Regions from separate parts of the Homo sapiens genome. Here regions 1 and 2 are each linked to region 3. The links come from fine-mapping of genetic effects on gene expression. A gene starts in region 3. Each other region holds a variant in brackets. All regions are shown on one strand. Distances are from middle to middle.

Region 1 (8,179 bases), 94 kb after region 3:
TTGTAGTTTTTGGCTTGGAAAACAGGTCATGATGGTCATAAATGAGAGCATGGATCTGTGGAAAAATAAAGAGCTTAGAATCAGTTACACCTAGGTTGGAATACCACCTCTGCCACTCATTGTGGTGCGACTGTTTAACTTCTCTGAGCCTCAGGCTCTTCATCTGTAATTGTGGGTCTAATAATACCTCCCATAGGGATGTGGTGAGATTTAAATGAAGCAATGCATGCAAAATCTCCAGGTCCCTGCCCAGCCCTTAGTGGTTGCTCAGTAAGTTGCATCTAGTTTAAGGGCATGGTGCAGTGAAGGTGTTGGGGAGGTGAGAGGAGGGAGAGTTGAGACAGCCAGTGAGCCACGTCTGCATTAATATGCCCAAGTGTGTGTGTGGGGGGAACACCAAAGACCTTGGCAACTAGATGGCACTCACTTCCCCTTCTCAACCCAGAGCCTGAATGGAGGAGCCTTTCACGAATGGCCTCTTGCTCACACTACCCTTCTCTTCTGTCATTTGTGGAGTTCCTCCCAGCCTTAGCTGCAGCACCAGCTCCATCTCTTTCCCATCTCAGGGCCCCCACCTCTCCCTACTTCCAGCTCTCTGTCTTCTGGCTTCTTCTTTCACCTCGATCTCTCTTCACTGCTCTAAGCCCTCAGCCATTCACGTACTCTAATAAGATGCTTCTTTGTTGTGACAGACTCTGCAACTTAAAGAGGAAATTCTTGAGCACTTTGGGAGGCTAAGACAGGTGGATCCCTTGAGCTTAGGAGTTTGAGACTAGCCTGGGCAACATGGTGAAACCTGTCTCTATAAAAAATACAAAAAATTAGCTGGGCATGGTGGTGCACGCCTGTACTCCCAGCTACTTGGGGGCCTGAGGTGGGAAGATCACTTGAGCCCAGGAGGTCAAGGCTGCAGTGAACTGAGATCGCACCACTGCACTTCAGTCTGGGTGACAAAGTGAGACCCTGTCTCAAAGAAAAAAAAAAAAAAAGAAAAAGAAAAAGAGGACATTCATTCCATGCCCATCAAGAAGGTCTTAGACCCAGGAAGGTCAAGGCTCCAGTGGGGCATTTTAGTTCCTTCACACCTTCTGCCCAACTACTTGGAGCCCAGCCCTATGATGGTGTGGACATAATTTTCTCTCCCTAAGGGACTTCTTACCTGCCAGGACATTCCATAGGCAGATGCCCCCAGGACCGCTGACTGCCCGGTACGGGACCTGGATCATGTTAAGAATGGCAAAGCCCATGCTGACCAGAGCCAGGGCCAAGGCCAGGAAGAGGAGCAGCAGAATCATCACATGAAGGCCTGCGTTGAGCTCCTTCACCAGGTGTGGGAAGACTGGGGAGACAAGACACAGCCACTATTTCAATGTCAGAGTTAGACTCACTTTCATGAAGTCCAAGCTTGCTTACCACGAAGGCTTCGACAGACAGGGGTGAGGGCAAGACAGCAAGCGTGGGGATTTCAAACAGCGGGAGACTTTCTGAGATGAACTCATGGCCCCCAGATTCATGCTTGTCAGTTGACCAACAAGCCTCTGTTCCTTAGAGTGGACACAAAATCAAAATATGCCCTGGCTGTCAATTTAAGTTGCATTGAGCTTGAAGCTCTGGGATCTGATGTGAACTGATGCACACAGGCCCCAGTGACTTAGCAAGGTAGACCCTGGCTTATCCCCATGTATGAAGGACACATAATTCTCACGTTGCACAACGTTTTATTAAAATATTAATTTGCCTTATGAGTATGGCAAAATAAGTTAGTGAAATCTTAATTCATATTTGTTTTCTCTATGTTTGCCAGCAGTACCAGCTGTGAAGATGAAATGACATAACATAATAGAGTAGCTCAAATAGTGCCTGGGAAAGTCAGTTCTCAAAAATGGCAGCTGTGGTTATTGCTGTTATATTTTGACAGTCTTGGGAAAGTCATGTGACTTCTCAAGCCTCAATTTCTTCATCAGTACAATGGGGATAGTAATCCCTGCATATGAATTGAGGATAATCAACATTTACTAAGTGCAGTCATGGGCCAAACATTTTACATCGTCATCTTGTTCAATGTGCATGACAAAGACATGAGGTAGATTTTATAAACTCCTTATACCCACAGGCTTGGAGACATTAATTGCTTGTGTTTGGGGAAGGCAACTCTTAATTCTATATAAGATTATAGTTCAATATACTATGAGAACAAATGTGACCCTGAAAGAGCCCGTCCTTCAAGATGGGTCCTGAGTGGTTAACTGGCTCTAAATTTAAAGTAGGGCCAAGTGGCCATTTACTGACTAGGGGGTCACACGCATCTTCTGAGTTCCTTGAAAACCCACACCTTTTTATCTTTGAGATCTGCCTCAGCCAATCAGGGCTCAGCTGTAATGACCAATCGGGGCTCAGCTGTACCAGCTAATCAGGGTTCAGCTGTATCCACCAATCAGAACTAAGTGAATTTGAATCCTTTATTTACCCAAACAGACCTGACTGGAAACCTGGGTGGGAACTTTTGCTATAAAATCTGAGCCTTCCCTTTCTTCTCTGGAATACACCTTCCTTTTACACCGGAGGCTGTGTTTCCCTGGTTTGCAAACCGTTAACTGGAATAAATTCTTTACTCCAAATTCCTTTTCTGAGAACTGTTGTTCACAACTGTATGGTATCAACAGTGTCAAGTCATGATCTTTAGTAGTTTTACATGAAGAATTGAACATTATGAAAGCTACAGAACTTCTGAGCATACTCATTCCTCTGCAATTGCTCCAAGGTTCCTGCTGAATACCCACCCTGATGGAACTAGTTCCTTTGCTGGTTCACCTGCCTCTCTTAGTCACTGAAGGTTGGCGTCTCCCAGTCCTGAGAACTAGAGTTTTTGTTTTTCCCGTTAGGTGTCCCGTTAGGTGACACATTTTCAGGCACTCCACGTTTACATTGTGCGTTCTGATGTTTCTTTCCAGTTCTGAATTTCCATTTATTTTTATCTCCCTATGGTTATCTAATCAGCATTGGAAACTTTACCCTGGAAGATGAGCTCCTTTCCAGTGAGTTTGTCTTTGTAAAGCGTCTTTCTTCCCTGTGCTTCTATCCCATCTTAATGTCCCTTAGATTTTTTTTTTCTCTTTTCAAACTCTCAGCCCCTTTTTGTTTCAGACACAGTAGCTTGTGCTGAT[A/T]TTTATTTATTTTTATTTTTAAAGACAGAATCTTGTTCTGTCACCCAGGCTGGAGTGCAGTGGCACCATCTCGGCTTGGTGCAACCTCCTTCTCTCTGATTCAAGCAATTCTCATGCCTCAGCCTTTCCAATAGCTGGGATTACAGGCACCCGCCTCCATGCCTGGCTAATTTTTGCATTTTTAGCAGGGACGGGGGTTTCACCATGTTGACCAGGCTGGTCTCAAACTCCTGGCCTCAAGTGATCTGCCCGTGCTGGGATTACAGGCATGAGCCACCAGACCCTGCCGCTTGTGCCTGATTTTTAAATTGTTTCATTATCCCCTTTCTTAACCAGGCAATCCTTAGGACACACGACTAACATAGTAATGCTTACCAAAACTCTTACAATAGAAAACAGTCACCTATGTGAATGGTAAAGATCAAAATGTTTGCTAAAACACCGTGTTGACAATGGTGTAAGGAAGAGGCACTCTCAAGTCTCATAGAAATATTAATTCATGTAACCTTGTTAGAGGGCAATTTGGCAACATCTACTAAAGCAAATTCACTTCTAGGAATTTATTTTCCAGAAGCACTCCCACATGTGCTCAAAGCGTGGATCAAATATTGGATATTCATTACAATAGCAAAAGATTGGAGAAAAAACAGTATGTGAATAGACTGATTTAATAAAGTATCCATAATGTCCATAATGTATATAATTCATCTTTTAAAAAGAAAGAATTATATCCACATAATGATTGAAACCATATCCAGATTTGATTTTTAAAAATTGAGAAATAATCATATTAGGATGACGGGGGAGAGGGAATTTGGGGAATGTGGAGTGATGTGGAGAGGGTGGTAAAGAGTGCCCAGTCCTCGGCCTTCATAGTAGGAAGTGCATTAACTATAATTAAAAAATACTTATTGGCAAAGGGCAAATCTCACTCAACCCCCACATTCTTGGGCCATAACACAGGGCTCAGGACCTCATGTTTAATAGAGATTTTATTATTTTTTAATATATGTCATTATTTAGAAATTCGAGGCTGGGGCAGTGGCTCATGCCTGTAATCCCAGCACTTCTGGGAGCCATTATGGGGGGATTGCTTGAGGCTAGGAGTTGGAGATAAGTCTGGGCAACATAGCAAGGCTCTGTCTCTAAATTAAATTATTTTTTAAAAAAGAAGAAAAAAGTAGAAATTCAAATCATTTCTCAGGAGTGTTAATGCACCAGTTCTTTCTACTTTCTCACTGAGAGGTGACTCTGCCTTAGCCTGACACCCAGTGCTGCCCTAGGAAAGCTGTTGCTCACTTGCCTTTCACATTTGAAATCCAGGTTCCAAGAGTTTTAGATGTCTCCCACTAGGAATTAAATTTAAGTTTCTAGCTTGAAATCCATGACCCTACACACGACTCATGGTGATAAATGACAACACGATTCATGGTGATAAATGACAACAGCCACCTATATGGGGTGCAGACTATGTGCCGGTGGCTTTATACATATTCTTTGTTCTGTTGCTCATGGACACCCTCTCTCATGCTTACAAATGAGGAAACTGAGGCTCGGAGAAGTGAAATAGCTTAGCTACGCTCCCACAGCAAGAAAAGTGTCAGCTTAACTACTCTATTACAGGGCTAGAGCAGAAAAATCAGAAAGCACAGATAAGTAGAGGTTTAAAATTCTAAACATAGAGTCTTTTGAATCCTGGAGGTCTCATTTTGAATTTGAATAGATATAGTTGTTTCCTACACATTAGAGGCAACTCACTTGAAAGCAGAATTGATTAATCATTCTATCAGCATCATTCTATCAGCATATGATGCATCTATCAGCATCTATCAGCATATGATGCATCTATCAGCATCTATCAGCATCTAAGATAATTTGTTTGCTCCGAATCCCAGAGAGGTCTGGCAGTCCTTTTCGCCCCAGCAGGGCAAATAAGAAAAGCAGGACATCTGAAGTCAAACCCAGGTCCTGGCCACTAGTGGAATACCTGTGAGGCAGGAAGTAGAGAGGAACCAGAGAACTAAAAGCTGCAAAGCAATCTATTACATTAGGTGCTTTTAAAGAAATTATTTTATGTATCGATTTCTCTGGTCTCTAATTTCCTCATCAGTAAAATGGGCGTAATAAAATCTCTTCTCTAGCATAGTAAAAATGGAAGGAAATGAACTACAAGGCAATGGCTTCAGATACTGTGTTCTGTGCCTAGTATATATTTATCTGCCTCTCCTTTATCAGATGGTAAATTTTTCTTTCTTTTTCCTTTCTCTTTTTTTTTTTTAGATGGATTTTCACTCTTTTCACCCAGGCTGGAGTGCAATGGCACAATCTTGGCTCACTGCAACCTCCACCTCCCAAGTTCAAGTGATTCTCCTGCCTCAGCCTCCTGAGTAGCTGGGATTACAGGCACCTGCCACCACGCCCGGCTAATTTTTGTATTTTTAGTAGAGACGTGGTTTCACCATGTTGGCCAGGCTGGTCTCAAACTCCTGATCTCAGGTGATCCACCTGCCTTGGCCTCCCAAAGTGCTGGGATTACAGGCGTGAGCCACTGTACCCGGCCAGATGTTAAGCTTTTCTAGGGCAAGTACTTGTCTGGTTTGTTCATCCCTGTTTTCTTAAGAGCCTGGTCTGTAAATACTCCATAGTACAATTGAATGTGTGGACAATGCTAAAGTAATGTTTGTCTTTTTCTTTCTCTAGCCACCCAAACAGCCATGTTGACTTGTTTTTATTTCATAGGGCCTGGGTATAAAAAAAGGACCTTAATCTTTGCGATGGATAGTTCTTTGGTTTTCTCCATGATTGGCGTGGGAATTTATTCCCCTGGGTGATTTTTTGGGGAGGCCTCTGTGATGAGAAAAGTGGCTGTTTGTGAACGAGACCCAATAAACCTCCCCATCCCAGAGTTTGCAAAGCATTTTCACTTACGTCCCCATCTACACTGATCTGCGACTGTGGGGATTATTTTTTTTTTTTTCTACAGATGGATAGTGAATGGCAGAAAGAGACCCCAGGAGAAACAGACTCCTGGTTGTGGGAGGCTCTGATATACCCCGTAGCTGCCTCGAGGTTACACTGTGCTAGAATTAAAAGCTGTAAATCTAAAGGAGACTAGACTGGCACTATCAGTGTCCCTGAGCTGTACTGGGGTAAAGCCAGCCAAGCACAGGAGGAACCTGGCCCCAGGCTCCTCGTGAATGCTTTGAAAGAGAATCACATCCAAGGTACTGCGAATGGATGTTTACAGACCCTCCTCTGAGACAACCCCAGGGCAGCAGGAAACAAAACCTTCTCAAATACGCTCCTACTCAGGGACAAGAATAAAATGTCCTTTATGCTTCTCACAGGGTTCTGATGCTTTCCAGACCAGACCACGTTAGATGAACCCAGGGGAATGTTTCCCATTGGTGTCCTTCTAAGAAGGAAGAAGGAGGAAGGCAAGAAGTACTTACTGAGTTCCTCCAAGGCTCAAACAAAATATGCATTTGTTTGCAGCTTCCTACTCGAAGCAGTTTACATTTCTGTGAGCTGGGAATGGCAGGGGTCTGGTCATTAGGTTAATGCTGGCATGTGACTGCTGTTTAATCTTCTCACCCCATTCAAGTTTCAACGATTTACCTGTTGGGGTTCAGAAACCAACACCCCTAAAATATGAAGCTTTGTGAAGAAGTCTCAAGGTCTCTCTGGCCTCCCCTCTCCCTCGTGTCTCTCCATTCTTTGTCTGTCTCATAAGCACAGGATGAGGTTGTTCTCTGACATTCCCTTACCTGCCTACATCCAGACCTACCAAAGAAAAAGACCTCTGGTCCCTTCCCTGAGTGTTCATTAATTGTACCCATATCACAGGAAGAAAGACTAAAGTCTGTTAACACAGCTGGACAGACTTTTGTCACAAACCAATGTCTGCTCTGTGGGCTCAACAGACTTTGTCCCAGCTCACTGTATGTTCTTTAAGCCCATTGAATTTCCCTAAAAATAATTTACTAGTCCCCTAAAATCATCCACACTTCCCCATCTCTCTTTCCCCTAAGATGAAGAGGATACAACCACCTGTACCCCATTGAGATAGCGGACAATCACTCTGTGATTTTTCCCCTATGCATGCTAATAAATGTGTAAGCCATTTTCCCTATTAATCTGCCTTTTGTCAGTAGATTGTTTAGAGAACCTTCAGAGTGCAAAGGGGAAGTTTTCTTGACCCCTAAAGTCCCGAAGACATCCTTTATAGCAAAGCATCTAGTTCAGAATCGAGTAGTCCATGTAGTTGTCATGGTTAGCTTTTAGCATTTCTTTTTTTTATTTGTTTATGTGTGTGTGTTTTCAAGTTTTATGTTATAATTTTGATGGAGCTATTTGTTCAATATCCAGGGTCTAATCTAATTGCTAGGTAAATATAAATATGCCCAGACATATTGATCTTGAATATACATAACAAATGTAAATTTTTGTGTGTTTAAATGATGACAATTTGTATTATATTTGTCAACGGTTCCAGCTTTTTGTCCTTATAAATTTAATACGACATTTACCTTGGCCAGATTTCTATAAACTACTACAATACTGAAATATAGAAATCAAGGAATGAATACAATTCTGTATCACCCTACATTGGCATGGTATTGATTAATTACGGTTTTGTGCAGACACTTTTCACCAGTGATCTCATCGATTCAAAAGGCTTGCAGAATATTGCCTGTTTTGTTTTTTCCTTTCCAGAAGCCCGTTCCTAAGTCCAGCTTGGATTCCTGTTTGTGCAGACTGCTCTGCTTACATCCTGGGCAGCTCTGATGCTACACTGAATGCCAGCCAAAGTCGGTGCCCGCTCACGTTCACAGAGAACAGGCAAGTGCCTTGCTTGAGGTCTCCCCACCAGTAAACTTTCCAGTAGGGGTTTCAGCCAGGGTAGTCTGATTCCAGAACCCAAGCACAGTGCCCCTTTGCATTTTCTCAGACTATGAAGCTTTTACAAAAGTAGATGTGGAAAGGGTCATCATGCTTCCCAAAGGTTCAGTTCT
Region 2 (8,179 bases), 25 kb before region 3:
TTAGCTCAGCAGTTTTATTAAACTCTAAGGGCCAGATTTGGCCAACTCCCAAAGGAGGAAATTTTTTAAGAGACTAGATGGGAGTCCCTGCAGGGAACTCAGGAGCCTGCCACAGGCTCCAGCCTGGGCGGGGTGCCAGTGGGTCTCCATCTCGCCGCAGCACATCTCTGGCCCTTTCTGCCTTGTCTGCCCCTGCGCCTCCTGAAAACACCTCTCCTGGTTGCCTTCCTCAGGAGCGGGGCGGCCCGGGCCAGGCCGGCTCCCCACCGGGCGCTGCTGGGCAGGGTTCCGGCGAGGGATGCGGGCTCTGGGAGGAGAACGCGCAGCTCCAGGACGCGGTGCGGCGGCTGCGCGCGGAGGTGGAGCAGCATCAGCAGGAGGCGCAGAAGCTCCGAGACCAGCGCAGGTGGGTGACCCGGCGCGCCCCGCCACCGCGCCACCCTCACCCCCTACCCCGCCACCCCCCCTCCCCCTACTGCGGCTGGCTGAGCCTGAGACCTGAAATGGGTCACTGCCTCGGCATCCTGCCCCACAAGACACTAGACACTGAATGCGCCAGCATTTCACAGATGTTACTCCTCTGACCCATGAAAAGTCCCAGAGCTCCAGAAATTCTGGATCTCAAAACCGCAGAGGAAGTGCCTTGAAATAAAAGAGGGAGTCTGGCTGGGCGCGGTGGCTCACGCCTGTAATCCCAGCACTTTGGTTGGCAGAGGCGGGCGCATCACGAGGTCAGGAATTCGAGACCAGCCTGGACAACATGATGAAACCCTGTCTCCACTAAAAATACAAAAAAAAAAAAAAAAAAAAAAAAAAAAGGCCGGGCGTGGTGGTGTGTGCCTGTAATCCCAGTTATTCGGGAGGCTGAGGCAGGAAAATCGCGTGAACTCGGGAGGACCAGGTTGCAGTGAGCCAAGATCGCGCCATTGCACTCCAGCCTGGGCGACAATGCAAGACTCCGTCTCAAAAAAAAAAAAAAAAAAAAAAAAAAAAAAAAAAAGAGGGAGTCCTGTTTGTTTCCCTGCAAATCAGGGCATTTATGAGACTGAGAATTGGACCAAAAGTGTCATCAAATCCAACCTTACGGAGACGGTGTAGTGGAATAGTTCAGACCATGCGGTGTCTTCTTAACTAGCTGTGCGCTCTTAATTAGCTGTGTGAGGTTGGGTGAGTTAGCTGACCTCTCCCAGACTGAGTCCTCTGTAAAATGGGGATAAGACTCCAGCCTCGGCTGGCGTGGTAGCTCACGCCTGTAATACCAGTACTTTGGGAGGCTGAGGCAGGCACATCACTTGAGGTCAGGAGTCCAAGACCAGCCTGGGCAACATAGTGAAACCCCGTCTCTACTAAAAATAGAAAAATTGGCCAAGCGTGGTGGTGCATGCCTGCAGTCCCGGCTACTCGGGAGGTTGGTGAGGGGGGATTGCTTGAGCCTGGGAGGTGGAGGTTGCACTGAGTTGAGATCGGGCCACTGCACTTCAGCCTGGGCGGCAGAGCCACAATCTGTCTCAAAAAACAAAACAAACAAAACAAAAAACCTGGCCTGTCAGGGCTGTTGTAGAGTGCAATGGAATGTGTGCAGGAGGCTTGGCATGTCCCTAGCATGAATGAAACGCTTGGTTAATTGTAGAAGTGAAAAACCTATCATCAATCCTGAACTCAGAGCCTTTCTTCCTCTTGTTGGAAAGCTTTTAATACAAATTCAATTTCTTTAAAGACACAGGATATTTCATATTATCTATTTCTTAAGTGAGCTTTAGCAGTTTGTATCTTTCAAAGAATTCGTCTATTTCATCCAAGTTTTTGAATGTCCTAATGCCAATCATAAAATTGCTCATAATTTTTTTTGTCATTTTAATGTCTGGAGGATTCCTTTTTTTTAATATTTGTCAGCTGTGTACACTGAACCCTGTTGTGTTGGCCCAAAATTGCTTTGAGCCTTGACTGTGCTTGTTCATTTATTTTCTTTTTTTTTTTTTTGAGACAGTCTTGCTCTTTTGCCCAGGCTGGAGTGCAGTGGTGCCATCTCGGCTCACTGCAACCTCCACCTCCCAGGTTCAAGTGATTCTTCTGCCTCAGCCTCCTGAGTAGCTGGGATTACAGGCGGACACCACCATGCCCAGCTAATTTTTTTTTTTTTTTTTTGTATTTTTAGTAGAGACGAGGTTTCACCATGTTGGTCAGGCTGGTCTCGAACTCCTGTCCTCGTGATCCTCCCGCCTTGGCCTCCCAAAGTGCTGGGATTACAGATGTGAGCCACCGCACCCAGCCCAATTTAATTTTCATAACCACTTCTTTTGATAAAGGTGAGGGATAAAGATTCAGGGAGTGGCCAGGTGTGGTGGCTCACGCGTGTAATCCCAGCACTTTGGGAGGCTGAAGCGCATGGATCACCCGAGGTCAGGAGTTCGAGACTAGCCTGGCCAACATGGTGAAACCCCCCGTCTTTACTAAAAATACAAAAAATTGGCTGGGCCTGGTGCTGGGCGCCTGTAATCCCAGCCACTTGGGAGGCTGAGGCAGGAGAACTGCTTGAACCCGGGAGGTGAAGGTTGCAGTGAGCCGAGATCGTGCCATTGCACTCCACCCTGAGCAACAAGAGCAAGACTCCGTCTCAAAAAAAAAAAAAAGTTCAGGGAGGCTTTCCACTGCAGTGTAGTTGTTAGGGAAGACCTGGTCTCCCAGGTCTCAGAGTCCCAGCGTTCAGGCCATACTGATAGAGAATCTCAGCCTCTTGCCTCCCCGCCTGTCCCAAGTGAAGAGTGTGTTTTCTGGGGCTCCCCTGCAGGGCTGCTCTCCATCACTTCCACCTGAAGTCTGTCCCCATGCTCAGGTTTCTCCTTCTGAGATGGGAGGGTGCTGAGAAGGGGTCCCATAGTGGGGGTTTGTCCTGGACTCCACAACTCAAGAGACTTCAGCTCTTCTTCCCACAGGTGTCCTTAGATCACAATTTCTCCCCACCCAGATCTCCCAAACTGGGCAGCGATGAGGGAAATAAACCCCAGAGCCCAAGGGGTGCCATCCCTGGAGCTGGGCAAGCCTGGCTGTGCTTTCATCCACCACAGGTTCCTGGAGGAGACTCAGCAAGCCCAGCGGGCCAGGGAGGTGGAGACACTGCGCCAGGAACACCGGAAGGAGATGCAGGCCATGGTGGCAGATTTCAGTAGTGCCCAGGCCCAGCTCCAGGCCCGGCTGGCTGCCCTGGAAGCCGAGTAAGTGAGGCCTCGGGCCCCAGGGAGGGTCTTGCAAATGTACCATTCAGTAGGGTGGCCAACTCACCCCAATGACCCTGGGATTTCCTGGTTTTCAAATTGAAAGTCCTGGGTTCTGGCCAGGCACGGTGGCTCATGCCTGGAATCCAGCACTTTGGGAGGCTGAGGCAGGTGGATCACTTGAGCTCAGGAGATGGAGACCAGCCTGGCCAACATGGCGAAACCCCATCTCTACTGAAAATACAAAATTACAGGTGTGGTGGCACACGCCTGTAATCCCAGCTACTCTGGAGGCTGAGGCAGGAGGATCACTTGAGCCCAGGAGGCAGAGCTTTCAGTGAACGGAGATCAGGACCCTGCACTCCAGCTTCAGCAACAGAGCAAGTTCAGGGCAGGAGGCGGGGTGTGGTGGGGGGAACTAGCCAGGGGCTCATCAGTCTCCCTTCATTTTATGAGGCTATGTTCCCCTTTTCTGCAGGGCAGTGGGAATTTGTGAGGATGAGCATTGGTTTAACCCTCACACTTCGAAGAAATCAGAAGGATCAGGGCTGCTCAATTAGAATTGTTATTCCCACTGGTCCCTCATGCAAACATATTGCATTTATTCATTCAACAAATAATTGTTAAGGACCCATTGTATGCCCAGCACTGCTTTAGGCTCTGGAGTTATAGCAGGGAACAAAACAAAGACAATGCTCTCATAGGCTCACAAATTCTGCTGAGAATTCGGATAAGAAATAAGCAAACAGGCTGTGCTTGGTGGCTCATGCCTGTAATCCTAGCACTTTGCATGGCTGAGGCTTGAGCCCAGGGTGGACTGCTTGAGCCCAGGAGTTCGAGACCAGCCTGGGCAACATTGTGAAACTCCGTCTCTACAAAAAATACAAAAAAAAAATTGCTGGGCATGGTGGTGTGTGCCTATAGTCCCAGCTACTTGGAAGGCTGAGGCGGGAGGATCGTCTGAGCTCAGGAGGTTGAGGTTGCAGTGATCTGTGATTGCACCCCTGCACTCCAGCCTGGGCTACAGAGAGAGAAACTCTGTCTCAAAACAAAACAAAACAAAACAAAAAAAATAGACCCTGTCTCAAAAAAAAAAAAAAAAAAAAAAAAAAAAAGCAAACAGTTAACATCATACCAGGCGGTGAAAGTGCTGGAAGACAGGATTGGGAGTGGCAAGGGTGGGCAAAACAAGGCCTCTGTGAGGAGGTGATGTTTAAGTACAAGGAGGTGAGGGCACTCCTGAGGCATCAGTGAGAGGGAGGGTGAGTGGGAGGAGAGGAGCTGGGTGAAGGGACTCCTGCCCTGATGGGAAGGAGTTTGGATGTGTTCAGAGTGCCCTGGGAAGCCTTCACAAGGCACTGGGCAGGAGTGACATGGCCTGACTTGCCTTTTCACAGGGTCACTTCTGACTGCTGAGAAGAAACAGGGGGAGGGGGTGACTAGCAAGACCATTTAGGATGTGATGGCAGCAAGCCAGGTCCAAACAGGTGAAGCCACTTGCCCAAGGTCAGGCAGCATTAATTCAGTTTAAATGTCACCTGTCTGACCTTTAGCCTGAGCTCTTAAAAACTTCTCCA[G/CTG]TCTCCAATACAAAGCAAATCATCCAAAAGCCAGCAGGAAAGGTTTTACCAGTTACAGTCTAACGGGCACTTACTATATGCCAGGCTCCCATTATCACATTGAATTCTCACAACCACCCAGTTTCATGCCCATTTTAAAGGAGAGGGAACTGGGGCCCACACACAGGTGAAATGATGCCCAAGGTCACATATCTAGAAAAAAGAAGAGCCAGTATTAGAGCCGGGTCATCTCACCCAAAGCCCTGGGCTCTTATCAACTCCAGTCAGTAGATTATCTGCACCCCCAGCCCTCCTCTCCTCACCACCCAGTTACTCTTCTCTGGCTTCACGCTGAAAAAGCAGTGGGGGCCGGGCGCGGTGGCCCACGCCTGTAATCCCAGCACTTTGGGAGGCCCAGGAGGGCGGATCACGAGGTCAGGAATTCCAGACCAGCCTGGCCAACATAGTGAAACCCCGTCTCCTCTAAAAATACAAAAATTTCCCTGGCACGGTGGCGCGCGCCTGTAGTACCAGCTGCTCAGGAGGCTGTGAGGCACAAGAATCGCTTGAACCAGGGAGGCGGAGGTTGCAGAGAGCCGAGACCGCGCCATTGCACTGCAGCCTGGGCGACAGAGGGAGACTCCGTCTCCAAAAAAGAAAAAAAAGGCCATAGGTACCGGCCACTGGCCGCGCTCTATGTCCGCCAGCAGATGGCGCCAGAGCATTAAGAGAACCTACGGGACATTTTCCTGCCCTGGTCTGTTCTCCCAGCAGCATCCCTGGCTCTTGAAGCCCCGCTGAGTGCAGCATCTATGTGCACACAGGGGCCTTTGCTTCCTGGCCCTGCAGCCTCAGGGGACCTGACAGAGCTGGAATCCTGGGTTCGGCAAGCCATCTCCCCAGGGGGCCCTGGGCAAGCCGCTGCTGCTATCTGGGCCTCCCTGGCCGGGCTGAACACAGGATGGCATTCCCATCGTGTGCACTTGTTCTCCCTCTTTGTTGAGTAATTGCTGTAAGGGGGACTTGACTGCATGCCTGCTTGGAACAGACTGAAAGATTCCGGAGAGAAGCCAGGGAAGGGAGCGTCCAGGCCCGAGGACCTTCAGCTCATTGGCCGCCTGCAGACCCGCCTGAAGGAGAGAGAGGACATCATCAAGCAGCTCACGGTGAGGCTGTCAGGGGGCGCCTCACCCACGCACCTGGCCGGGCACTGCGGGCTCCCCCGGGAGGGGCGTTCACTTGCACCCAGCATTTCTCTAGGTGCCCTAATATCTTACAAAGAATCCTTTCTTGCCGTGCGCGGTGGCTCAAGCCTGTAATCCCAGCACTTTGGGAGGCGGAGGCGGGTGGATCACTTGAGGTCAGGAGTTCGGGACCAGCCTAGCCATGTTGAAACCCTGTCTCTACTAAAAATACAAAAATTAGCTGGGTGTGGTTGTGGGCATCTGTAATTCCAGCTTCTAGGAAGGCTGAGGCAGGAGAATCACTTGAACCCGAGAGACAGAGGTTGCAGTGAGCCAGCATAGCGCCACTGCACTCCAGTCTGGGCGACAGAGCAAGACTGTCTCAAAGAAAAACTCCTTTCTTTTCTATTATTAAAGAAGACATACTCACTAAAAAATTAATACAGGAAAATAGGAGGCAAAAAAAAATCACTTTACTCCCAAGTCCAACAGCATTTGCCCCATGTTAATATTGGTTTTTTAACTTACAGAATTTGAGAAAATCTATAATGGCTTAGGTTTGAATTGTAGTAGAATTAGTGTTTTTATTGTTGATCTTCTTTTTGTAAAAATGACCACCTGTTTTCTACTTAGCAAAGCCACTCCCTAAGCCCCTTGGAAAGAACCCAGCTCCCTCTGATTCAGTATCCAACCAAGGCCTGCTGGTCATTTCTGCTCCTGCTCACCTGCCTCACTTCTGTATCTCTCTGTGCTTTGAAAATTAGGTGACATTGATATGGAATTATTGCTCATTTGCTACGTGTGAACAAAGGTATCATGGGTTTTTTTTTTTTTAAAGTAATCCTTATTTCTAAGAAATACATACTGATGTTTTTACAGAGAAAAATTATGTAATAACTGGAATTTAGTAATAATACAGCAGGAGAGAAAAAAGTGGAAAATGATACACACAAACAAGATCGGCCATATAGTTATTATAGGTAAAGTGGGGATGGATTTCATTACTCTCCCTATGTTTGTATATGTTAGGCAACACAAATGTCAAACAAGACAGAGGAAGAAAGGCGGCAAAATCCTTTGCATACCTGGGGGTTTTCTTTCTTTGCCTTAATTACTAACTTTCTGCATTAGGTTACCTTCACATGCTAAGAACAGTTGAATTTTCAATTTCCTAAGGCATCAGCTTGCCCTTTTCTTTACAAGAGGGGCTGGGGACATAAAAAAAGCAAAGGTGCTTCCTCAAAAGCTTCAGTGCCTGGCAGCTTTATTCCCACTGACTTCCCCTTCCTCCCCTGGACTTTCCTTCTCTATTCTGCCCTCACAGCCATCTTCCTTCAAGTCAAACCCAGTGCTGTGTGGTTAGGCTCATTTAGACTCAGTTGTATTGGTTTTCTAGGAAGAGAGAAGATTTCACTACGCAGCATTCCCCAGTGCCATGTCCCACCGGAATCGGTCTTTCTCTTTCAATCCTCACCCGGGATATTTGACCCCTTCCATGAAGGTAAATTGGTTCTAATGGTTTTAATGCATTATACAATTCCATTGGTTTCGTTTTTCTTAAAGGTAACCACAGGTTATTTAAGGGCTGGTGTACGCTCAGAAAAATATTCATTGGAAAAAAAAAACCCACTTGTTTATATCTATGGCTGGGCGGATTATGTGTGATTTTTATTTTTTATGGGATTTTGTATTTTCCAAATTTTCTAGAATAAATGTGTGTCAGTATTAAGAATAGCTCTATCTAGGTGATGGGAGGGAGAAGAGTAAGAATCTTCCACTTCTTAACTATTTCTGTACATATTTTTGGAATTTTTCACAATGAGCATATTCACATTCAATTATCTACTATCACAAAATCCTAAAGGCTCTTAAAAAATAGTATTTTTGGCTGGGTGCAATGGCTCACACCTGTAATCCCAGCACTTTGGGAGGCCGAGGTGGGTGGATCACTTGAGGTCAGGATTTCAAGACCAGCCTGGCCAACGTGGTGAAACTCCAACTCTATTAAAAATACAAAAATTAGCTGGGCTTGGTGGCAGATGCCTGTAATCCCAGCTACTCAGGAGGCCGAGGTAGGAGAATCACTTGAACCCAGGAGGCGGAGGTTGCAGTGAGCTGAGATCGCACCACCGTACTCCAGCTTGGGTGACAGAGCAAGGCTACATCTTAAAAACAAAAATAGTATTTTTAAAAATAGTTCACAGGACAATACACTTGTGACTTAACT
Region 3 (8,153 bases):
CCAAGTAGCTGGGATTAAGGCGTGTGCCACCAGAGACCACTAATTTTTGTATTTTTAGTTAGAGATGGGGTTTCACCATGTTGCCCAGGATGGTCTCGAACTCGTGACCTCAAGTGATCCAGCCACCTTGGCCTCCCAAAGTGCTGGGATTACAGGCGTGAGCCACCGCATCTGCCTAGAAAGAGAACAGCTTTTTAAAAGCATGGCTAAAACAGAGCCTTTGCCTGGAAAGTAAGTGCTTGTCCTCATTTCCACAAACCCAACGGCTGGCTTTCAGCAAGTAACTTGCCCTCACTGAGCCTCAGTTTCTCTACCTATGAATGGAGGAAATGGAACTAGATGGTCTCCAACGTTCCCTCCAAAATCAAGAGTGCATGAGCTCAATAAATTCCTTCCATCAAAGAGCATGTGCTAAGCAGCTAGAATGAGCAGACAGAGACCTCAAGGAGTGGCACCCCAATAGGAATGAGAAGCAGGTAAGTAGGTGCTGCTATGTGCCACTGGAGGCTGTGAAAATTGAGGTCCACACAGAACACAAGGAAGGAAACAGGAAAAGTTCCAAAGAAAATGTGGCCTTTGAATTGAATCGTGAGACAAGACTAGACAGATCGTGATCACCCAGCAGCAGAGAGGATCCAGCTCGCACCACTCCCACTCCCCTTCACCTGGCTAAGTCAAAATGCTTCTTTGGCTTTCCTGCTCTCTGGGAAGCCTTCTTTGATGTCCACACCTATATGTGCTCCCACAGTACCCCAGGTTTCTTCTATCAGAGCAGTGATCCTACAACAAGGCAACTGCCTGCCGTTTATTACAAGCTTCCTGAAGGCAGGGACTGGTTTTCTCTGTATTCTCTGTATGGATAATCAAGTCCCAGAGGGAGTTCTCTCTCAAGGGCACCTACAGACATATATGTGAATCAGGCAAGGAGTTCTGTGCACAAGCCAACTACACTACAGGCTCCACACTACAGATTCCTTCAATGTCTGACAAATATTCATCTAGCACTTGCTATCTACTACCACTGTATTAGCACTACAGGTTACACAATGTGAGGGGTGGGGGTACAAAACAGGTAGTCTCTGACTTCATGGAGCCGAATTTAATGGTAAGTATTAAAAAGAAGGCCAGGGAAGGGTCCACTGAGGAAGTGATGCAGTGAGCTGAGGAGCGGCCTGGAAGCCCAAAGAGAAAACAAATGGTACACGTGGGAAAGTCTTGTGTGGCTGCAGTAAGGAAACGAGTCTGAAGGAGAGAACGCAACATGCAAAGCCTGGGAGACCACACTAAACATCTTGATCTTATCTCAAGGGCAACAAGCAGCCACTGTACGTTTTTAAGCAGCAGGGTGCTGGGAGTCAACTTTGGCTAAGACTTGTACAGGGCCAGTCTTTCAGCAAGTGCCCATGACTGAGAGCCAGCTCCCCTCAAGCACAATGCTAGATGCTGCTCTAAAGTTCACCAGCCCCTTCCTTTACCACTTAGCACCACCTCAAAGGTGTCTCCTCCTCCTCCTCCTAAACGGTCTGTCCTTTAAATCATTTATTTCTGGCTAGGCGCAGTGGCTCACGCCTGTAATCCCAGCACTTTGGGAGGCCGAGGCGGGTGGATCACGAGGTCAGGAGTTCGAGACCAGCCTGGCCAAGATAGTGAAGCCCTGTCTCTACTAAAAAATAAAAAAAATAGCATGGTGGCAGGTGCCTGTAATCCCAGCAACTCGGGAGGCTGAGGCAGGAAAATCGCTTGAACCCGGGAGGCGGAGGTTGCAGTAAGCCGAAATTGCGCCACTGTACTCCAGCCTGGGCGAGAGAGTGAGACTCCATCTCAAATCATTTATTTCTAAATCTTTGTACATCCGTGTGGTAAAAGCATTTTGTCCATGCAGTCTGAATAATCGCTTGCAAATTATATTCATTTACCACTGTGCTATTAGATACAATACAAAAGTCACAAAGTTGGGATTTTTATTTATTTATATTTTATTTTACTTTTTTGAGACGGAGTCGAGCTCTTGTCACCCACGCTGGAGTGCAATGGCGCGGTCTCCGCTCACTGCAACCTCCGCATCCCAGGTTCAAGCGATTCTCCTGCCTCAGCCTCTCGAGTACCTGGGATTACAGGCGCACGCCACCACGCCTGGCTAATTTTTGTATTTTTAGTAGAGTCAGGGTTTCACCATGTTGGTCAGGCTGGTCTCGAACTCCTGACCTCATGATCCGCCAGCCTCGGCCTCCCAAAGTGCTGGGATTACAGGCGTGAGCCACCGCGCCCGGCAAAACTGGGATTTAAAATGTGGAAAAGTTAACTCCAATTTGAACGTACATTACTTTATTACTACACAGGAATAGCTCATCTTCCACTTTAAAGACTACTGGAAATCACCAGAGCACTTATTTTCACCTCTCTATCTTCCCTCAATATACAGTTCACCTTTCTTGCTACAAGGTAAACTCCTTGGGCAAAACTGAGAGATTGGGTCACCTGTGCCTCCCTCCCTCCCTAACCTCCAGCATTCCTCCTTCCTCAGCTCTTAGTACCAAGCTGCGCCTGGTAACTTAAGTCAATTTCCGCTCTTAAGAGTCCCTTTAGGATCGTTTAAAGGTGAAGCCCAGCGGAAAGGATACAGGATACAGCAGTGAAACTCTCAGCTCCGAAAAGGCTTGAGCCTCTTACTAAACATGCAGGGATGCAAGAAACGGTGCTCGGGGATGAGACTAAGGACCGGCTGGGAATCTGGAAGGGTTCCAAGTTTGGGGTTTAGGCAAACTTCGGGTTCACGTTTCCACAAACGTCGAGTTTACGCGCCCCCGCCAGCAGACCTGAATTGAATACGGGCCACGGGGAAGCCTAAAGCAAGTGACTTACTTTAAGCCTCAGTTTCCCCATTTGTGAATTAGTTGCTCGGATCCCTGGAGGAGATACGCGTACGCGCAGTTCACGTTTCAGAAAAAAGGGAAGGCTAGGGACAAAGACGCCCATGTCTTATATTACCTCGAAAGATGACTCCAACTCGTCCACCAAAGTACTGCTGGAAGGTCTAGGAGCGCCTGGAGCTGCCTGAAGAAGCGAAGCTTGGCCCGGAAGGCCCGGCGGGGCCTGAGGGGGACCGGGTGGCTGCCCAGAAAACATACCCCCTAGTGGAGCCGCCATGTTTGGAATGGCGCAAGAGAGATCCACTGCGCCTGCGCGGAAGCCGGCTCAGAAGCTCACGTGGCTGGTGTAGTAGGCGTGGTCACGTGACAGGACCGAGCGATGGGAGGATTCTGGTGCACCCCGGAAGGAGGATTTTTAATTCTTCTGTTTTCTTGTCTATCGCAAAACAGAGTTTACATGTATTTTCCTTTTTTCTTAGCTTAAGAATTGAAGACTTTGGCCGGATTAGACCTGGTTGTGTGGAGAGGAGAATTAATAACTACAGTGGAGCGAGCCCTCCTGCGAGAGTCAGGATACTACTATGCTAGTCCCGACTCTGCCCCAAATGCCTGGAGAGACTTTGGCTAAGTCACTTTTTCTTTCCGCGGGCTGTTTACCGTTGGTAAAAGGAGAGGGTCACCCACTCACTCCACAAACATTTGTTGAGTCATTGGTTATAGCGGGAACAAGACAGGCAAAGTTCTTCCTGAATTCTGGTCGGAGATGGATAACGGAAACAACTTTGTTGAGGTTCCCAATGTGCCCGGCACTGATGTCTTTAAATATTTATGGTTACATCAAAGAGAAAGTCACTATGCTAATCTTTTTTTTTCTTTCTTTTCTTTTTTCTCAGGGTCTCGTTCTGTCGCCCTGGCCGGAGTGCAGTGTCATGATCAGGGCTCGACCTCCCGGGCTCAAACAATCCCCCTACTTCAGCCACCCAAGTAGCTAGGACCACAGGTGCGTGCAGTCGCGACGGGCTTTTTTTTTTTTTTTTTTTTTTTTTTTTAGTTGAGTCAGGTGTTTTACTGAGCTCAAGTGATTCTACCGCCGCGGCCTCCCAAAGTGTTGGGAATACAGTAATGAGCCAAGGCGCCAGGCTGCTAATTTTTTTTTTTTGAGACAGAGTCTCGCTTTGTCGCCCAGGCTGGAGTGCAGTGGCGCGATCTTGGCTCACTGCAAGCTCCGCCTCCCGGGTTCACGCCATTCTCCTGCCTCAGCATCCCGAGTAGCTGGGACTACAGGCGCCCGCCACCACGCCCAGCTAATTTTTTGTATATTTGGTAGAGATGGGGTTTCACCGTGTTAGCCAGGATGGTCTCGATCTCCTAACCTCGTGATCCGCCCGACTCGGCCTCCCAAAGTGCTGAGATTACAGGCGTGAGCCACCGCGCCCGGCACTAGGCTGCTAATCTTGTAGTAACCTGCTTTTAACATTTGCTTATCTCTCTCTTTTTTTTTGGTGACGGAGTCTCGCTCTGTCGCCCAGGCTGGAATGCAGTGGCGCGATCTCGGCTCACTGAAACCTCCGCCTCCTGGGTTCAAGCAATTCTCCTGCCTCAGCCTTCCGAGTAGCTGGGACTACAGGCGCCCGCCGCTCGGCTAGTTTTTCTGTATTTTAGTAGCGCCGGGGTTTCACCTTGTTGCCCAGGCTGGTCTCGAACTCCTGAGCTCAGACAATCCGCCCGCCTCGGTCTTCCAAAGTGCTAGGATTACAGGCGTGAGCCACCGTGCCCAACCTTCTTATTTATCTCTTTAAAACCAAATAACTTTTTTTCATTATATCTGATTTTACAGTTATTACCCAGCACACTTACTGAGCGCTCCACTTCCCAGGCACTATTTAATGATCTGGAGGTTATAGCAATCATCCCAAATCTCTGGAAGGAGACAGACAAGCACATAAATACATAGCAATATTGTGCAGAGAGAAGAGCTGGGAAGGAAAATGAAACCCAGTAAGGGGATGGCTAGTGAGAGGGGTGTTCTTTGAGATAGGTGATTGGAGGAGGCCTCTCCAAGGAGATCTGGACTGTAGTGACTGGCATGAAAATTTAACTAGGAGTGCTTTCTACACCGAAGGATCCCTGAAGAAGCAGCCTGCCTGGGATGTTTAAGGAACCACAGGAAGCTCATTGCCAGAGGAGTGAGCCAGGGCAGAAATGTTCAGAGAAAAAGCAGGAGCTTCCCTTTGCCAACCAGGCTCGGATCAAGTCATCTTCCCAGCCTCAGTTTCACTTAGATCCCCACTCCTAAGTACTTTCCCCTGTTTAATTTTCTTCACAACATTTATGTAATCTGAAATTATCTTGTTCATTTTTTCATAACTGAATCACCTGCCCTCCTCCTCCTTCTCTCTCTGTCATACACATGCCAACTAGAAAATAAGTTCCGTGCATCAGAGCCTGCCCATCTTATTCACCTGTATCCCCAGAATCTAGAATGGTGCCTGGCATAATAGATATAATAAATATGTGATGACTGAAAGAACCAGAAGAGACCGCCAGGAGGAAACAAGCCTACTCCAGCAGTTTTCAGACAGTTTTGGTCTCAAGACCCCTTTACACTCCTAAAAATTATTGAGGATCCCAAAGTTTTTGTTTATGTGGGTTAAGTCTGCTAATATTTATCTGATAAGTTAAAACTGAGAATTTTAGGCTGGAGGCAGTGGCTCATGCCTGTAATCCCAGCACTTTGGGAGGCCGAGGCAGCCGGATCACAAGGTCAGGAGATCAAGACCATCCTGGCTAACATGGTGAAACCCCATCTCTACTAAAAATACAAAAAATTAGCCAGGCGTTGTGGCGGGCGCCTGTAGTCCCAGTTACTTGGGAGGCTGAGGCCGGAGAATGGGGTGAACCCAGGAGGCAGAGCTTGCAGTGAGCCGAGATCATGCCACTACACTGCAGCCTGGTTGAGAGCAAGACTCCGTCTCAAAAAAAACAAAAACAGAATTTTAAAAATCAATTCATTAAAAAATAATTCATTAAATGTTAACAAAAACAATCTTTATTAAAACTAATACTCTATTTTCTAAAATAAGGAATAAGTAAAAAGTATGGCATCATTTTACTTTTTTGCAAATCTCTCTCTATATATATATATTTTTTTTGAGACAGGGTCTTACTCTGTTGCCCAGGCTGCAGTGCAGTTTCACAATTACAGCTCACCATAACTTCCGCCTCCCAGGCTCCAGCAATTCTCCCAATCAGCCTCCCAAGTAGCTGGAACTACAGGCATGTGCCAACACACCTGGCTAATTTTTTGTAGAGATGGGGTCTTGCCATGTTGCCCAGGCTGGTCTTGAACTCCTGGGCTCAAGCAGTCCACCTACCTCGGCCTCCCAAAGTGCTGGAATTATAGGAGTGAGCCACCGTGCCCAGCCTTTCAAGTCTCATTAATATCCAGTTTACCTAACCTCATTGTAAATTTCCTGCGAACATGGTCAGTGGTATTTCTCTTGCAGTCCTCCTAGAGTACTGCACAAAAAAGCACTAACATTTTTTGGATTTTGCTGAAAACCCATCACTTCATTTATAAGATGAGAGAACACTGCCTTAGAAAAATTACTAAGAACAAGATAATCTATGTAGAGGTTTAATACTGTGCCTTGCATAAACTAAGTTGCTAAGGAGTGACACGATGTAACTCCTATTTTTAATTTTTAGAGATAAGGTCTCACTATGTTGCCCAGGCTAATCTTGAGCTCCTGGCCTCAAGTGATCCTCCCACCTTGGCCTCCCAAAATTCTGAGAATACAGGCATGAGCCACTGGGCCCGGCCTGATTTATGTTTTAAAATAATCTTTCTAGTCATACAGATAACAGGAGAACAAGTGGAGAAGGCAGGGAGACCAGTGAAAGAGAGTAATCTAGGAGTGCAGAGAGGATGGTGACTTGTACCAGGGCAGTTGAGACAGCGGTGGTGAGACTTGGGTCAAATAAACATGATTTGTTTAACAACCAACTGGTTGGGAATGGAATGTTAGTATGATTTGAATGTACCTTTTTTTGTTTTGAGAGGGAATCACGCCCTGTCACCCAGGTTGGTTTTGGAGTGCAGTGGTGCAATGTTGGCTCACTACAACCTCTGCCTCCCGGGTTCAAGTGATTTCTCCTGCCTCAGCCTCCCAAGTAGCTGGGACTACAGGCACATGCCACCACACCCAGCTAGTTTTTGTATTTTTAGGAGACACAGGGTTCGTGAAGTTCCTGGCAGCTAGATGTACATTCAGTGACAACTATTAAATTTCATCTCAGCCAGGCACGGTGGCTCACATCTGTAATCCCAGCACTTTGGGAGGCCTATACAGGTGGATCACTTGAGGCCAGGAGTTCGAGACCAGCCTGGGCAACATGGCAAAACCCATCTCTACTAAAAATACAGAAACTAGCTGGGCGTGGTGGTGTGCACCTGTAGTCCTAGCTACCTGGGAGGCTGAGGCATGAGAATCGCTTGAACCTGGGAGGCAGAGGTTGCAGTCAGTTGAGATCGTGCTACTGCACTCCAGCCTGGGTGAGAGAATGAGATTGTCTCAAAAAAAAAAATTTCATCTCAACCAGATTAGGTAAGCCACATGAAACCAGGGCCTGTGCTATGCTTTTTGTATACCACACACTAGTAAACACAGGAGTTCCACTGTTCCTTTATCCATAAAAAGCCTTTGACAGAATCCTTCTATCAAAGCCCGACTGAGGCTCTGTATCACCCAGAATAAATCTGTTTTCAGTTTTCTTCATAAGCCTGTAATTCCAACCCTCTAATTCCATCTTTCCTGATGAAGTGACTTCTGAACATGAATAACCAGGGAAACCTGTGTTTGCTCACTACACTCACCGGGTTTTAATTCTAATAAATACCACAAACAAGCATGCCCATTTCCATTCCCTCTGTAAACCAGTTTAGATATACAATATTTTTGCATGTCAAATTTCTTAAATGTTAAAATTAACAGTAACAAAGAGCTTTTCCTGTTAAACATTTTCAAAGTTAAAAAAAGGGCACACATCCCATTGATGGATTAATTTGATTCATCGGATACAAAAGTAAAAACGAGGAGAGCTTTGTTCTAAGTCTGCACCAATGGAATTATGTTGATTGGTTATAGTTTCAGGAGGTGAGCAAACAGTTTTACCCGTTGACAGTCCCCGTTTTTTTTTTTTTTAGGAGATGGGGTCTTGGTTTGTTGCCCCAGCTAGAGTGCAGTGGCTCATAGCTCACTCATAGCTCACTGCAGCCTCAAA

Alleles and levels. Positions count from the first base shown, and alleles are read on the strand shown. Sizes are in standard deviations (SD) of each study's normalised expression. Not every link is listed here.
As copies of G replace CTG in region 2, the expression in naive CD8 T cells of the gene that starts at base 3,161 in region 3 goes down (moderate effect, 0.64 SD a copy in Schmiedel 2018).

Evidence for each region.
Region 1: its variant is fine-mapped to the expression of MED28 in whole blood (TOPMed, PIP above 0.99).
Region 2: its variant is fine-mapped to the expression of MED28 in naive CD8 T cells (Schmiedel 2018, PIP 0.95). The same link has a PIP of 0.9 or more in Th2 cells.

What each region holds. Positions count from the first base shown.
Region 1 is chr4:17,516,024-17,524,202 of GRCh38, reverse strand. CLRN2 (clarin 2) reads right to left here. Exons shown (of 3, transcript NM_001079827.2): 2 at 1,160-1,339. Among named protein-coding and RNA genes, the nearest start is that of CLRN2, 4.9 kb to the right of the region's middle. The variant A/T (reference allele first, on the strand shown) is at 3,165.
Region 2 is chr4:17,634,283-17,642,461 of GRCh38, reverse strand. It overlaps FAM184B (family with sequence similarity 184 member B), which reads left to right. Exons shown (of 18, transcript NM_015688.2): 13 at 234-406; 14 at 3,066-3,212; 15 at 5,817-5,934; 16 at 7,349-7,453. Among named protein-coding and RNA genes, the nearest start is that of MED28, 24 kb to the right of the region's middle. RefSeq lists a silencer at 5,585-5,674. The variant G/CTG (reference allele first, on the strand shown) is at 4,790.
Region 3 is chr4:17,609,649-17,617,801 of GRCh38, reverse strand. It overlaps MED28 (mediator complex subunit 28), which reads right to left and starts at 3,161. Exons shown (of 4, transcript NM_025205.5): 1 at 2,989-3,161. The coding sequence starts at 3,147. MED28-DT (MED28 divergent transcript) reads left to right here and starts at 3,222. Exons shown (of 3, transcript NR_186331.1): 1 at 3,222-3,660; 2 at 3,764-3,870. RefSeq lists enhancers at 3,012-3,121, 3,222-3,511, 2,617-3,816.